2 separate regions of the Homo sapiens genome follow, and region 2 is linked to region 1. Evidence: fine-mapped expression QTL. Tissue or cell type: whole blood. Region 1 holds a variant in brackets; the other region holds the start of a gene. All regions are shown on one strand. Distances are between the middles of the regions.

What was found. PIP is the estimated chance that this variant, and not a neighbour inherited with it, causes the effect.
Region 2: CDON starts here. The variant in region 1 is fine-mapped to the expression of CDON in whole blood (TOPMed, PIP 0.97). The same link has a PIP of 0.9 or more in hippocampus.

Annotation. Positions count from the first base shown.
Region 1 is chr11:125,974,843-125,982,950 of GRCh38, reverse strand. CDON (cell adhesion associated, oncogene regulated) reads left to right here. Exons shown (of 20, transcript NM_001378964.1): 17 at 1,622-1,902; 18 at 4,568-4,647. Among named protein-coding and RNA genes, the nearest start is that of VSIG10L2, 33 kb to the right of the region's middle. The variant T/C (reference allele first, on the strand shown) is at 3,384.
Region 2 is chr11:126,058,473-126,066,580 of GRCh38, reverse strand. CDON (cell adhesion associated, oncogene regulated) reads left to right here and starts at 3,715. Exons shown (of 20, transcript NM_001378964.1): 1 at 3,715-4,002. RefSeq lists silencers at 3,128-3,217, 3,288-3,957 and an enhancer at 6,158-8,108.

The DNA of each region.
Region 1 (8,108 bases):
TGGATGGTGATCATTTGATTTTCTAAGTGGTTTTAATGCCATCGCCTTTAATTGTGTGAGTGCGTGTTGAATCATGAAAAGAGAAGTATTAATCTGAAAGGGATGGTGATCATTTGATTTTCTAAATGGTTTTAATGCCATTGCCTTTAATTGTGTGAGTGCGTGTTGAATCATTAAAAGAGAACATTAATCTGGTCGTCCCAGCCATATTAATCAGATTAAAGTCATCCTACTTTGTGACCTGATAATGTTTAAAAATGGAAAATTCTCATGGTGGTGTTCATTCAGTCATTTATTCAAAAGATAATCATCGTCTTCTGTATACCAGGCACTGTTCTGGACAGTGGAGATGTAATGGTAAATAAAATAAACACCACCTCTGCCCTCTCAAAGTGTGTAGCTTAGTGAGACCACAAGCAGGTGTACTGAGACTACACACCTGGGCGAGAGCACACAGTAATGTGGGCAGCTAAGGAAAGGAGGGACACCTAATCCAGCCTTGGCAAGCTCTCCTACCTTCGAAGAATTTATCCAGACTCCAACAACAAATCCTGTACAGTTTGGACACTCTAGTTTCTAAGAGATACTTTACTTTTTCTAAATATATCTGGTAGATGTGCCTCTGGAAATCAGTTTTGAGGCAGTCATTTGTATGCTTTTAATAGAAGAAAATAGAAGGCTGGGCGGAGTGGCTCACGCCTGTAATCATAGCACTTTGGGAAGCCGAGGTGGGCGGATCACGAGGTCAGGAGATCGAAACCAACCTGGCTAGCACGGTGAAACCCTGTCTCTACTAAAAATACAAAGAATTAGCCGGATGTGGTGGCACGCACAAGCTACTTGGGAGGTTGAAGCAGGAGAATTGCTTGAACCCGGGAGGCAGAGGTTGCAGTGAGCCAAGATCACGCCATTGCACTCCAGCCTGGGCAACAAGAGCGAAACTCCATCTCAAAAAAAAAAAAAAAAAAAAAAAAAAAAAAGAAAATAGAATCACTTTTTGCCTTTGGTACTCCACACCTTCCAAATTGGCTGTAATGACTAAGGAGCTATATGAATGATCAGTGACTGTATATACAACTCCATCCTTTTACTTAACAGAGTTGTTTATTGCTACTTGAAATACCCCACCTAAAGCTAGTCTTTTGTTGTCATTTTATGCAGTTTTTTTCAGCACTTAGAAGTATAATATATAGGAGTTTAAGCACTTTTTCCTAGTATTGCCAGTACTCTGATAGTTTCAGCTTGCCCAATATATTCATTCTCTTTTGAGTAATTTCTCCCTAGGTGATTTTTCTTCCCGTTAACAGAATCATAATTAACTCAGAGTTCACAGCTATCTCTACACTCTATGGAAAATAATAGCAGTAACTTTATTAAAGCATGTCTTACAAGTAGGCTTTAAGTGAACATTTTAAAAATGTTTTTATTTTAGTCTATTTGTAGTTTCGTAGGGGTTTTATCTGTAAGACCTTCTCAGCAAGAAGATTGTCCTTTTTAGTGTCTTACTGTGTGCGTGTGTGCGTGTGTGCGTATGTGCATGTGTGCATGCGTGTGTGCGTATGTGCATGTGTGCGTGCGTGTGTGTGTGTGCGTGTGTGTCTTTTTTGTTCTCTTTTAACAGAATATGACCCACCAGGATATCTCTACCAAGGATCAGATATGAACGGGCAGATGGTGGACTACACCACTCTCTCAGGAGCAAGTCAGATAAATGGAAATGTTCACGGAGGCTTCCTAACCAATGGCGGTCTCAGCAGTGGCTATTCCCACCTTCACCATAAGGTCCCCAATGCAGTCAATGGAATTGTGAATGGGAGCCTAAATGGAGGGCTTTACTCCGGGCACAGCAACTCTCTAACCAGGACACACGTGGATTTTGAACATCCTCATCATCTAGTGAATGTAAGAGACCTAACTATAAATAAAAGCCCCTCTGTCCCTCAGGGTGCCAAGTACTAGAACAGGGACAGCATGCTTGGCTTTGTTCAGTATAGAAACCTCACAAGTTTCCTCGAATGGAAACAGCATGGATCACTGGCAGCCCTTTGATCCAGAGTAGTCTTTGTAAGTTGTTTTCTATTGCCAGGTAATAGTTATGTTCATCAGTTTAGTTTCATTTTAAAATTATTTAACACTGAAAGTGGAATACCAGCAGTGAACAGACTGGAAGTTGTTCTTTAGATGAAATGGAAATACCAAATACTTTAAATTTGATTTATCGAGAGCAGGGTCTTGAAAATGCAAATGCCGAAAAGAGTCAGGCAGATCAGGAAATTGTGGGAGTGAGATGGTAGCACTGGAGGCGATGGCCACCTGGAGAGCACAGACAGTGTCTTCAGGAAGCAGCCGCGGTTTGACACTTACAGTCGTCATGGACTGAGGGCGCAGTGTTGCCAAATTTTCTGATTTTTCAAAACCTCTGTAAATCCAAGTGAAATTGACAGATTTTTACATGCTGGCACCTAATTCAAATTTTTGAAAACATACGTAGGCCATGCCAAACATCTCTGCAGGCCACCGGGTTGTGACTTCTGACCTTTCATGGGCTTCTTTTGTTTGTTTTGCCCAATATGTTTTGTTGTTGTGGCTGGTAAGCTTTTTACATTTTACAATGTTAGTATTCTTTAGCCACACAAAGAGTGATAAACCCTTAAGACAACCTTATTTCAGAGATAACTAGTTGATAGCGTTTAATTTTTGAAATGGTAGTAGAATGACTAGCATATTTTAGACTTACGTGGGGTTCTCTGCACTAGAAAGTTTGATTTATGACATTGTTTGGATGCACATCTATATTACTTTTGATCAAATAGATAATTTGTTTAATTGATGGAATTAAGCATTCAGTTTTTGTCATTGTTCTGATTACAAATAAATTTACCATGACCCACAATGTGCTACAATTTGAAGAAGCTTAGAGTTTTTTTTCCCCCCATCTTCAGTTTATTAAAGATTTATTAAAATCTATTTGGAGAACAAAACTAATATATACTCATATTTTAAAGCTAGAAATTGAATAGCTTTTATGTGACCTAGCTTTTGTATGTTGTGGAAGAAATATTAATTTGCTTTAATGCATCTCATTACTAAAAGAGAATCATGATTTCACTATTTTGTGTGGAAAGATACAGCATGTATTCAGACTTTCTAAGCTTTTTTGGTCACCATTCCTAGTCCAAACTACTACCATTGTCCAAGAAAACTGAAGGAGAGAGCATTAACATTTGAATAGCACACACTGTTTCCATAAGAAGAAAACATAAGGCCCATGTTCGCTTTAGTGTTTGAACACGGAACCTTGGGTTTTTTGAACAATGAATTTCTATTTAAATAATAGGTGCCCCATTTGGTGTACAATGTCAGAAGTTATCTGTGATTCTAAA[T/C]TATTCGTTTTCTTACTTTTCTGGGTGGGGGAAATAGAGAAATTTTAACAGTGTTAGTGACCCTAAAAATCATTGCACTAACTTCAACGTGTTGAGGGATTCAGAGAATCCGTAAGTCACAACGTTACCCTGCAGGTTGTGAACTTCATTTTCTGAGCCTTTCAGGTTTTCCCTCAGATGGAATATAGTATAGGAGAGTTCTTTCTCTCGATATGTTCTTAATAATTCCTGTTGCTGGTTGGATCAGAAACACTGAAGGAAATTTTCAGGACTTTTGGTTTGCTTAGATTCTGGCTACTGTTATGAAATGAATGGAAATGGAAAGTATTCTAGGAAAAACAATTGCCTGAACTTTTCCTAACCTTGAAGGCCTGCTTTGGGTTTGGGTGCAGTGTGACAGCCTCTCCCACCTTTTATCAAATTCAGTTCTGCTGTTTTTCTTCTGAAAGCAGAATTCTGCCTCTGACTATCAGGCTAGTTTAATTTTTAACTTCATTTTTGAAGAACCTTGCTGTCTGTCAAGTGAACATTTTACAATGAGGTATGTGTTAATCTGGGCATTTTTCTTAATTGCTGGGCAGTTTCCGCCAAAAGCAACATCCAAATATTAACACACCCCCTCCAAGTCATTGCTGGCTGAAGATCTACTCCATCTGGAAAAATATAGCATGCTTTAAAACTTAGCGTTGTCAAGTGAACAGACCTAATTGAAATAATTACAGGAAAATGAAGATGAGTTTATCATGTGACATCATCTACACAGGTTTTACACCCTGTTTCTCCAACTGGTATCACATGAAATTCTTCCCTGACTGCCAAGAAAGGGAAAATGAATGGAGGCTATAACATATAATGTATTTTGAGCCCACTAGATTTGAAGGGAAGTGACTAAACTTTTCCCTTCATTTATTTACCTTTGTCTAGTACAGAAATACGTAGGAAAACATGGCAGTGAAGTTTTTGGAATACAGTTAAATCTAATGCAGAACTCTCATTCACTCCTTTGTGAATATGGGTCAGTGATATTCACAATGACGTTGCTCTGGGAGTTGGTTAGAATATACTGTGTGCCCATTTATGGTTGACATGGCTCATGTGTATTTGTGATTATTTGGCTACTGGTCTGTGAGTACCTTCAGCATTCCTTCTTCTTTTCTTTTTCTCTGACACTCCTTCCTGTCCAGGGTGGTGGAATGTACACGGCCGTGCCTCAGATTGACCCTCTGGAGTGTGTTAACTGCCGAAATTGTCGAAACAACAATAGGTATGTTAATAATGTGTCTGCACAAGCTGTTGTGAATAAGGCATATGCATCCTTTTATTTTTCCCTTCAGCAAAGAAAGTTCTTGGAATTTTACCTAGGATATAAAGTTCAGGATTTGCAATCTTAAATTTAAAGCTGTTACTAATTTTTTGCCTCTGCTTTCCAATTTTTGTCTTTTTGTGCCTCGGTTTCTTCAGCTATATAGAAACCATCTTAAAGGCTCTATTTGTCACTGAAATATTATTATAAGGCTTAATGTTTTTGAAAATTTTAAATTAGAGTCATTCTCTGTTATAAAGACTTTATCTTTTCTCACCTTTTATTTTCTACTCTATGTTATGGGATGTTATGAGGATGAATGACAGTGTTTCTGAGTGTTGGGGGGAGGGGGGAACCCTCTGTATATAGTAATTTTTTTCACAGTAATGTTACTGAAATTTTCCTACCAGATTATCCAGTGTTTTTTTTTAATTCTTAAAATCTTAAGAAAATTAAGCAGCAAACCCTTGCTTTGAATTTTGTGTTTTAATTTTAAAAGTGGTATGTACTCACAATATTTCAAACAAGATAGAAATATGGAGAGCAATGTGCATTTAACACATAGGATACTCGGCACACTTTCCTACGACCTCTCTCTATGGTAATCCCAAGGATTACCAAGCTTTTTGTTGTATTAAAGTTGTTTCAGAAATCTTAGTTCTTTCTTTTACATAATGATGTTATTGAATTACATGGTGTCAAAAGTCCTTCCTTCTCAGTCCTAAAACTCTACAACCAAAAAGATTATGTCATAGTTAGTACATAAAATAACTGGAGTATGGGTGGGAGTTTAGATATTTTATTATTGAAATGATGTTTGACCTATATATTTAAAATGGATTAACAGGTTAAGAGTTGTCTCTGGGAGTTATTGAAACCAGAACTTGAAGAAGGATCAGGCCAACCATCAAATTAAAAATACGTTGTTCCAGCCTGTGTTTTGAGAGTTGCAGAACAAAAGCAACAGAGCTTCTTGGAGATTGTTTGTTATCATTTACTTAACCCATTTCAGGGTGTCTATAAAAGAGCCATCTGCTTCTTTTATGTACTAAGGTTTGCTTGTTACGTATTTAAATTCTATATGACCCTGGTTTTGCAAATGTTCATAACATTGAAACCACATTTTTGTCTTGAGCTTTTCATGGACTTTACCGTAGTTTGTTAGGCAACGTGCTAAAGACCTGGTAAAGGTGGTTCATGTACCTGGCGAGTAATCAGACGGATTTAGTTACAAGTGGTCTTGCTTAAAATTTTAACGTGTTTTCTTTTGTGGTTCTTGGTCATCAGCAGATCTTGGTTCTCCTGGACAATAGAATGGTATAACGACAGGATCTCTGGTCTAAGAATAAGTAGACCTGGGCTGTGACATAGCTTAAACCTGTGATCTTGCGAAAGTAACGTAATGTTTCTGAAGCTATTTCCTTAACTAAAAAGGGGAAAATTGTCCTAGGTAATGTAAGATTGCTCCCAACATAATCTGACGGTAGTCTCTGGCAATTTCCTGCCAATCATGTCTTTTTGATGAAGTATCATCTTAATATCAAGAATGCATCCCATTTCCTTAGAAGGACTTATATGACCTCTGCCATTTAAATGACCTTGGCTTTGTGGCTATTTGTATGTGTAGTGTGTGTGTGTGTGTGTGTTTGTGTGTGTGTGTGCATGTGTGTGTATGTAGTATTTTAGTATTTTCAAGTTTTTATTATACAGTTTTTTTTTCCTTTAAGACAATGAACAATTGTATTTCTATTAATTTTCAAGTTAATGACTTACTACATTTCATGTGTGTGGGTTTTACTGTTATCTGGGAATTTAGGTGAATTCTCTTCAGCTTGGAACACCAGATTCTTTTTCTTCCTGGTTTCAATTTTCTTCCTCATGAGAATCTGCCTGTTTAGTGCAAGTCTTTACTTGCCTGCATTGCCTTCAAGGTTAGCCAGTGTCTCACCTGGCTCCCAGGAGCAACTGTATGATTTTGACACTCAATAATTGGACAGATAAGTATCAATAAGTACCTACCTTCAGCTCTAGAAAATTTGAATTATTAAATTTAAAGATTTTAAGTCTTTTCACTTTGGAATTGAGAACAGGTATCTCCTCTTAAGATCTTACAAATGACAAAATTTGTAAAAAGCTGTGAATGCCGAAAGGTAGATGATACGTGGTTTACTCTCAAAATATAGAAAATTATAGTCAATTTATGCTTTTAGAATATCGACATTGTTACTATGAATGAGTTTGCATTTCTGAATATCAGCTGAAATAGTGTAAACATAAAAAGAAGCGTGATTTCAGTTAAGTTATATGAGGGCTATCAAGTGGGCCTCATATGATTTTTGGCTGTTCAGTCAAACAAAACAAAACAAACATTTACTGAGCACTACCCAGGCTCTGGACTAGGTTCTGAGGTGTTTCCCCGTAGAAGGAATGTAAGAACAGTCATGGACGTAGAAAGGATAATGTTTACATAAGAATGAATAGGCGACTTCAGTGGTTCTCAAACTTTAGCGTGCATCACTTGAAACACTTAATAAAAACGCACATTACTAGGCTCTACTCCCACTCCTATTCTTAGACCAGAGTTTCCCATTCAGCAGGTCTAGGGTGGGGCCTGAGAATTTGCATTTCTAATGAGTTCGCAGATGGTACTGATGCCCATGGTCCTGGGACCATGCTTTGAGAACCGCTGGAATAATTTGATCGGCTGTGAAGTGCAACTAGAGAATAGTAGGATATTGAAATTGGACAACTGGACTGAGTTTATATAGTGGATAACCCTGAATGTGAAGGTTTAGTAGTTTATTTAATAAACAAGTCCTATTACTTAATAATAGTCCTATTAAATATTATTTATTAAATAAGCAAGTTTATTTAATAAACAAGGCCTTTTATTGAGTGCCTGTCATGTACTGGGTACTGGCCTAGGCCCTGCCTTCAGAGAGTCCATAGTCTAACAATAGTGATTCTCAGACAGAGGTAGGGATATAGTGAGTAGAGTTTGAAGAAGCACGTTGAGTTTTATAATTTTATATTTAAAGAATAGAAAAAAATCTCTATGTCTGTAATGTCTATGTATACAAGGGTATGCAATTTTTATATTAATCAAAAGGGGATATGCGTTAAATGTTGAGAAACACTGGGGTAGCAGCATCATAATTGTTGCAAAGCTTATTGAGAACAGGAATGATCTGTTCAGAGATATGCTCAGGCTGGATGAAAGATGGCAGTGCACAGGAGGGAAGGGAGGGAGGGGATCAGTGAGACATGGGGAATGGGGATGAAGAGGAAGGGATGAGTGAGACTGCAGACATGGAGTCTTCAGGACTTGGCCATTGACTGACAGGGATCTAGAAAAACAGAAGATTCCAGATGTGTAAGAAGTTTCAAACATGGATGATCTGGGTGGTAGTCATAGTAATAAG
Region 2 (8,108 bases), 84 kb before region 1:
CTCATGATCTGCCCGCCTCGGCCTCTCAAAGTGCTGGGATTACAGGTGTGAGCCACCGCGCCCGGCCTTGGAGAACCAATTTTAACATGTATTGAGTATTATAAAAGCACCCACTTCAGGCCTGGAATGTATTAAATGTCACTTAGTATCTAACAACCTTCCCACCTCATCCCTGAGGACTTGAGTACTTGGCTCATGGTATTTCATTTATCAGCCTCTCAGTTCCTTCAATATGTCCCCTGACGGCATAAATCATCCACATCGTCCACCAGCACCGGTAAACATACTAGATCTAATCATTACTTGGAACTGTTCTACTTCTGAAATGGTAAACTCTGGTTATTACCAAAGACTTCTTGGTTCTTTCTTACTCAATCCTGTAACAACAGCTCTTTAATGTCATACATATCTCCTTTTCTTTAATTTGTAATTTTTCCAGTCTATTATTCTTCTCAAACCTCTTACACCTTTTCCACTGCCTGGATTCTATGATTGCTGTTTTAAAAATTTTCTTACCAATACCGTGTGTTATTTTCCTTCTTGTACAACTTCCAGAAAAACTTCAAAATTGGGTTGGTGTTATGCTTTTCCCCTTCTACCTGACTGATTAAATTTTGATGGAGAAAACCACATAATCATGCAAGCTCCATCACCATACATTAATGGTCTCCAACCTCAGCCAGGCCCTCAGCATCACTTATCAATTCTCTGAGTGATTTTCTACTTTCATTTTTCAACTCTCATTTTTCCTAATGACTATTCCAAACCTTCACCACCTTCTTCAAGCATCCTTTTCAAGTCCCATACCTTGAGTTCAGTAAACAGCCTTTGCTCCAAATTCATCAAGATAATTGGGGGCTTTAGTTATTGGAGTTTTAGAGATCCATCCTTGGCTACAACTTTCTGGTTCCATATTATTCCTGAGAGATCGCTTCCACTTTAATGGTATAAACACTACTTTATGCTGATGACGTTTAAATCCGTATTTCCACTTGGAGTTCTCTACATAGTGGACATCTGTGGTTGGAGGCCCCATAGTGTCTTAGTCTGTTTCTGCTGCTATAACAAAATGCCTTAGATTGGGTACTCTTTAAGCAACAGAAATTTATTTCTCATAGTTATGGAGGTTGGGAAATCCAAGATCAAGGTGCCTGCAGATTCAGGGTCTGGTAAGTGCCTACTCCTTACAGATGATGACCTCTCTGTGTCCTCCCACGGCAGAAGGGACAGAAGGGGCTAGCTAGCTCCTTGAAGCCCTTTTATAAGGTCATGAATCTTGCTCATGAGGGTGGTCCTCATGACTTAGTCAGCTTCTAAAGTCTCCACCTCTTAATACTATCACCTCTTAATACTATCACCTCTTAATACTATCACCTCTTAATACTATCACCTCTTAATACTATCACCTCTTAATACTATCACCTCTTAATACTATCACCTCTTAATACTATCACCTCTTAATACTATCACCTCTTAATACTATCACCTCTTAATACTATCACCTCTTAATACTATCACCTCTTAATACTATCACCTCTTAATACTATACTCAATACTATACTGACCTTGTGTTCACACAGCTCCCTGTTCATTGCACTGAAGATGTCTCCTTGTACTTACCCACGTGTGTGTCTGTATCACAGTTAGACTGTGAGCTCTTTGAAGCTTGGGACTGCACATTGTTTCTTAATGTTGAACAAATGGATGAATGATTCATTAATGAAAAACTGTTTTACACCTGAAATGATTTCTCTGCTTTACAAAAAAAGGGGGAGAGGAAGTAATTAATATCAACAAACATTGTGATTTTTTTCTTAGTCTGACTATGAGTAACAGTAGGCATAGTGAATTCAAATGGCACTGTGAGATCTGGAGGTGCACAAAGTGCATTATGTCCCAGGAGAAGAACCTGGAATTCTCTGTAGCCACAATAAATTTGCAAGACTTCTATTAACATCCACACAAAACTCTCATTTCAGTTAAATCCTCTATAGAAAGACTTACTTGCCGAATGAAAAATCGTTTACCATAGCTTGTTAATAACATATAGATTCTTGGTCTCCAAAAGTGAACAATAGAACAGTGGAGGACAAACTAGAGTTAAGAGTTTTTTTCTGGCTGGGTGTGGTGGCTCACGCCTGTAATCCCAGCACTTTGGGAGGCCAAGGCGGGAGAATCATCTGAGGTCAGGAGTTCAAGACCAACCTGGCCAACATGGCAAAACCCCGTTTCTACTGAAAATACAAAAATTAGCCGGGTGTGGTGGCACGTGCTGTAATCCCAGCTACTTGGGAGGCTGAGGCAGGAGAATCGCTTGCACTCGGGAGGCGGAGGTTGCAGTGAGCCAAGATCGCACCATTGCACTCCAGCCTGGGCAACAAGAGCACCCCAGCCTGGGCGACAGAGTGAGACTCCGTCTTAAGAAAAAAAATTGTGTTTTTTTTTTCCGTCCTGTACTGACTTTCTTTCCAGGGGCTTTACAAAAACCCTGAATCTAGCTAATGCAGAAAGCTAACCTGCTTGAACAATACCACACTTTCAAAGCATTTCTTTTTAAAATTCACGTAAGAAGGTAAGGGAGGACTGGCATATTTCTCCTGAAGTTCAGTACTGAGTATTTATAAACTTAACTATTATTAGGGATCCTTTTGTAGTTAAGCTAATAGTAAGTAATGATGATGGGGAAAAAAAAGAGCTAACTGCTAATAATAACAATTTATAAAGAAGTTACAGTCCTTGAATGCCCACTGAGTGGCAGGTGCTTTTCACAAAGTATCGTATTTACGCTTCACAGCAACATTTTGAATAGAAATTTATTTTTCCTTTTTCTGTTTGAACAACTGAAGTTCATTGAGTTCAGATAACTTGGGGCAGGTCCAACGGACGAGTTGGAAAGACTCTGGGGCCAAAGGCTCACACCACGCCTCTCCTAGCCCCTGAGTTTTGCTACCTGCTTGCGTTTATGTGCAGGCAGGGCGGGTGGGTGGTGGTGGGGGAATCAGATGAAGCTGCCTAAGGAATTAAACATGGAAAGTGGTGGAAAGGCGAAGGAGGTATAAGCGGTGGGCCGCTGGAACCCTAAGAGAGACCAGGCAAGAACCGGGAGAAGGGATGCACCCGTTGGCGGCTCAGAGAACTTAGGTAGAGGCGAGGGGCGGGGCGGGGCGAGGGGCGGGGCCTGAACGAGGCTAGGGCGGGGCCCGAACGAGGCTAGGGCGGGGCCCGAACGAGGCTAGGGCGGGGCCTCGGGGGACAGAGTCGACCATTTGGAGACCTGCCAGAAGAGCCGTCTCTCCAAGGGAATGAAAGGTGAGGGGAGCGTGAGTGCAGGCATGATGGGAATCTCCGTGACTTGGTAAGGCAACTCACCCTTACCTGTCCTACACCCAAGAAAAGCCTCTTCTATGCTCCCCTGGGGTATCTCTCTTGCAGAGTAGGCAGGTCAATGACGAGGAGAGGGTCCTGCCCAGAGCGTGCCCCCCTCCGTCACTTGGTACGGCCCGTGCCCCCGCCGCTGATCTGGCAGGCTGCGCGCGCACACTCCGGCCGGGTGCGGGCCGGCGGGGCACAGCGGCCTCTACGGCCCGCCTCCGTCAGTCATTCCCCGGTCCCTCCTCCCGCTGCTCGCGTGCTCCGGGCCGGCCCAGCACCCTCCGAGTTACGTGCCCGCGCTCCCCGGCGGGGAGGAGCGCAGCCGCGGGGGCGCGCCCCGGTGACTCCGCCCCTCAGCTCCCCTCCCCTGAGCCCGGGAGCCCGGCTCGCGCGGCTAGGTGCGAGGAGACCCGGGACCCCACGCCCGCCCGCCCTGCCCAGCGCCCCAGCCCCGGCGTGCGAGGCGCCGCTCCCTCCTCTGCCCTGCGCGGTGCATGGAGGGGCCCGTTCGGATCGCAGCCGCCGCCACCGTAGCCGCCGCCGCGCGCGCGCGGGGGGATGACCTGGGGGTGGCTTTCCGAGCCGGCTGCAGCGCAGGAGGTCTGGAGGCTTAGCCAGCCCCGCGGAGAGGTGCGGGGGTGGGGGTCCCGCCGCAGGGTCGGAGGGAGGGGTGGCGCGCGGGCACTGGGCTTGGGGGGCCTTGGCTTAGGGGACGGGAGGTCCCGGGGACGGGCGGGCCGGCGTTCCCTGGAGGGCGTGGGGGTGCAGGGCTGCGTGCGGGGTCTGGATGCTGATGCTTGCCCGGCGGGGAGCCCCGGCGTTCCGCGTCCTCGGGGGCTCGGAGGCACCTCGCGGGAGGAGGCGGGGTGAGGTGTCAGTGACACGACGAAACCTCTTCTTGACGATGGTCCTCGGGGGCAGGTGAGATGCCGCAGAGCGGGGAGCTAGGGCGCCCGCGCGTTTTCCCAAGGGAGCCGGGTCCCTGGCCTCTCTCAATCTCCATCCCTGCAGAGCGCCCGCGAGAGACAGTGATTTATGTGTAGGGAGAAGCAAGAGAAATTTCCTGCACAATGTATCTTTCTCTGCCTTCACAAGACTCACTGACTTCCCAGCCCCAGGGAGTGTATTTTTCCTTCTCCTCTGTAAAGCTTTCTGTGGATTGCATTATCATTTGCTAAATACATTACAGCTCGCTATTTATTTCAGTCGGCAGCTTCCAGACCTTTGTTGCTTTCTCTCCACATCTAGGAATTTCAGCAATAAATCACTGAGGGGGATAGATAGACTCTCTTGCCCTTCCCTTCATTGTTCTCCCTAACCCCACCAAATCAGGTGGAAGGCTCTCCAAAAGGAGCTGTTTCCAGAATGCCTGCCCTTCCTCATCAGGACGACAGAGGGTGGCAGGTGCTTTAAGGGCAGACTGCTTTCCAGTGGGAATCCAGAATTTAGAGAACCTCATCAACAGAAAGTCAGCCTTTGTGTCCCAAACCAGACACCTTGAAAAACAGGAGGTTGGACTAAAAGCTCACATGAGATTTATTTTCAGGCCTATGCCAGTAAAGATGAAAGACGCCAAGTCAGTGAATTCTGATTCCTTTCGGCGCTGATAACATAACCCTCAAATTCCCAACTGACACTTGGCATACCTAGTGGACAGTGTCTCCAAGGAGAGGAAGGTGGGGAGGGTGTTAGAAAATGAAATGAGTTTATTGTCAGCATAATTCTAAACATTCTATGACATTTTGTAGTTCTCCCCCACCCTCAGTCTATTTTTAGCTGAAAATTTGGGGATAGTTCAACTTTTAAGATAAGATGAAAGAAAACCTTCAAAAAATTTTCTGGAAATTTTAAATTAGTGCTTAACTAGAAAGCATTCTTTGGAACCCGAGAAGCACCAAATACTGCAGTCTCTGTTATGCACATGTTGGAATGAACTGCCTCATACTTGAAGTTATATGAGAAGGATGGAGAAAACCTGTTTCATTTTGTAAAGACGTGCCCTGGGTGTGTGTTTGGCAGTGTGTAGAACAGAAACATTTATATTTCTATTAAGAAACACACAAATGTATACTGTTTAACTTTCATGCAAAAACTTCCCAGTGTTTGGGAAATCTGTCTTTGTTTGAATAGTTTAGTCAGCCAGGAGAATCAGTTACTAGAGGTACTGTGCTGTTGTTTGTGTAATAACTCACTTGGGATGCTTTGATTGATTGCCATGGTTCTCATCAGCCTCCTCTTCTGTGCAAAGTACTTAAACAGCTCTGACTCTCAAGCCTTCAAGTACAAAGAACCCTTAGGACTTGGATACTGATCTAGCTTGTGTAGCTTGGCTTCTAAATCTAGCTTACGCCTTGCTTTCTTTGCAGGTGGTTTGACTTTGCAGGAAAAGAATTAAGTTCACTTTAAGATAGGACTTTCTCCTCCAGATCGTCAGGGTATATACAGCTGAAGGCAGTAGGTAGGAATAGGAACTAATGTCCTAGGGCTTTGTTCTAAAGAGAGCAGGTAAAAATTTGTTGACTATTTCTTGGGCTTGCTTCTTATTTTCCCACTTCGCCCATCTGCCTTCATGACTTTGTAGACAATTTCATGTATGGTTTTGTCGAAATGTAAGTTGAAGTAAAATTTTCCTTCTGTAGAATTTTTTTTTTTCCACGAACGTTTAGACTAAAAATTGGTGATTGTTTCGAAGTTAAATACTAGGGAAATGATTTCAGGAATTAAATATTATCGTAGTAAAAATCAGGGAAGCGTTAGAAAATAAATAATGAGTTGAAAAATGTGTTGCTTTAACGTGTAATGATATGAGCCAGCGCCTTGTGATCAGCTATGGCATGATGTAGAAGTATGGGTAAGACAATACAGTGGAGCTGTAGATGAGCTGCGTACATGGTAGCCCCCCTTTAAGTAAATGAACTTAATACAAACTAATTAGATTAGAAACAGAATTTGGAGTATGGTTGCCAAATATTTTGAGTTGAAGGACTTGCTTTTTTACAGTATTTTTTAATGGGGAATTTTTTCAAGAAATTTCGTGAACTTGAATTTGAGAATGTTTTATTTTTACTTAAATTTTTATATTGTATGTAATCATTCCATGTGATAAGTTTTTGTTGTGTATTTGGCACTAACTCACTTTCAACAGCACAGGGGAGGGCTTTACTTGATTCTTTTTTGTTAAAAAGAAGGGATGGTGTATGGAATATTCTTAATGTCACTTGAAAAATATTGGATTACAATTAAATGAAAAACTGGTTTCTTGGTTTTTTTTTTTTTAATCCTTCAAGTTTTCCCTCATTGCTTGTGCTCTTTCCCCCATTGTCAGGCTTAAAACATACAGTATCATTGTCATCTGTCTCCTGAATAATGGTCCTGAGGTGATATTATTAATGTGGCTTTTTAAAATCAAGCTAATTATACTTGCCTAAAAGAGCCACATGTGTGTGATTCTAGCTGCCTGGTGCCTTTTGAGAGCCCTGGAGACAAGCTAGTGAATAGAGCTGAAAATTCATTCTGTATTTGATTAAATGGAACAGACTCGCTGCTCCTTACCCCAGCGGGGGCTATGAGATCTCTTGATCCCCGAAGCGGCTCCAAGACCCTGGGAATTCCATTAGCGAGCACCTGAGGAATTTCTGCCCTGCAGTGCCTTTTTTGTATGTGTGTATGTGTGTGTGTGCAGAGGGAGTGGAGCAGAGCGGGGATTGGGGGGATGCGGGCAGGGGGGGTTGAGGGGGTGGAGGGAAGGCTACATTAGAAGACTCCATATGTTGGCAGATCTAAAATCAAGGCATGACTTAACAGCTTATCTTGTAAGAGAAAAGCCCAACCCAAAGGCAGATTGCTAGTCCGGACTTTATTACAAGCAGGACTACAGTGATGTGTTTTCAGCACTGAAGTGAACTCCAGTGTAAGTACAGAAAGTGGCTTCTCTGCTTTCCCTCCGAAGCACAAGCATATACACGTTGCAGACTTGGTAAGTTTTCTTTGAATGATCTTTTGATAAATATGTAAAATTATCTTACTGTTTGGTCTTGCCTGTAAAGGCTGATGTATCGTTTTAATAACTTTCAAACTGAGAGCAAAATCAGACTTCATGTGAAACAAATGGTTTTGCAGTGATGAAATGCTTGTTTTAATAGGCATATTTTAGTTTACTATTGATAGAATTTGATTGTTTCTGTTACATTATTATTATTATAGAATTCTAATTTAGATTATGTCTTTTCTGTTGTCTTTTTAAGAATTGTATCATTTCTAGTGTTTCTGAGGCATTACTTTGCAGACTTGCTAGCAGCGCCAAGTAAATGAAAATCTATCTGCCAAAAACATTCTGTAAAATCTTTGGAGCAAAATTTTTGAGAAACATTAGTGTGTCTTCCTTCCCAAGTCCCTTTTCCCCTGCCTCAAATAATGTTTGGGCACAAACTTTTTTTCAGAATATTAGCCCAGTTTGTTTCTTGTGTACTTTTCAAGGAAGACCAGTTCTGAATGGTGGATGGTGTAGTTAATTGGTTTTCATCTACCAAGAATGTGAATTCCAATGCTCCTGGTTTTCAGCTAATGCAGAATGCAGTAGCATATTTGATGGTTCATTTGATATATTTTGTTTCCAAGTAAAGTCGTGTTGTAAATAGTGCACAGTCTTTTCCGTCCTACTCCCATGTAGCCCTCTACCAAGTTCTCCTCACAATACAGTGTGTTCAGAAAATAAAGAAGCCTTTTTGAAGATATGT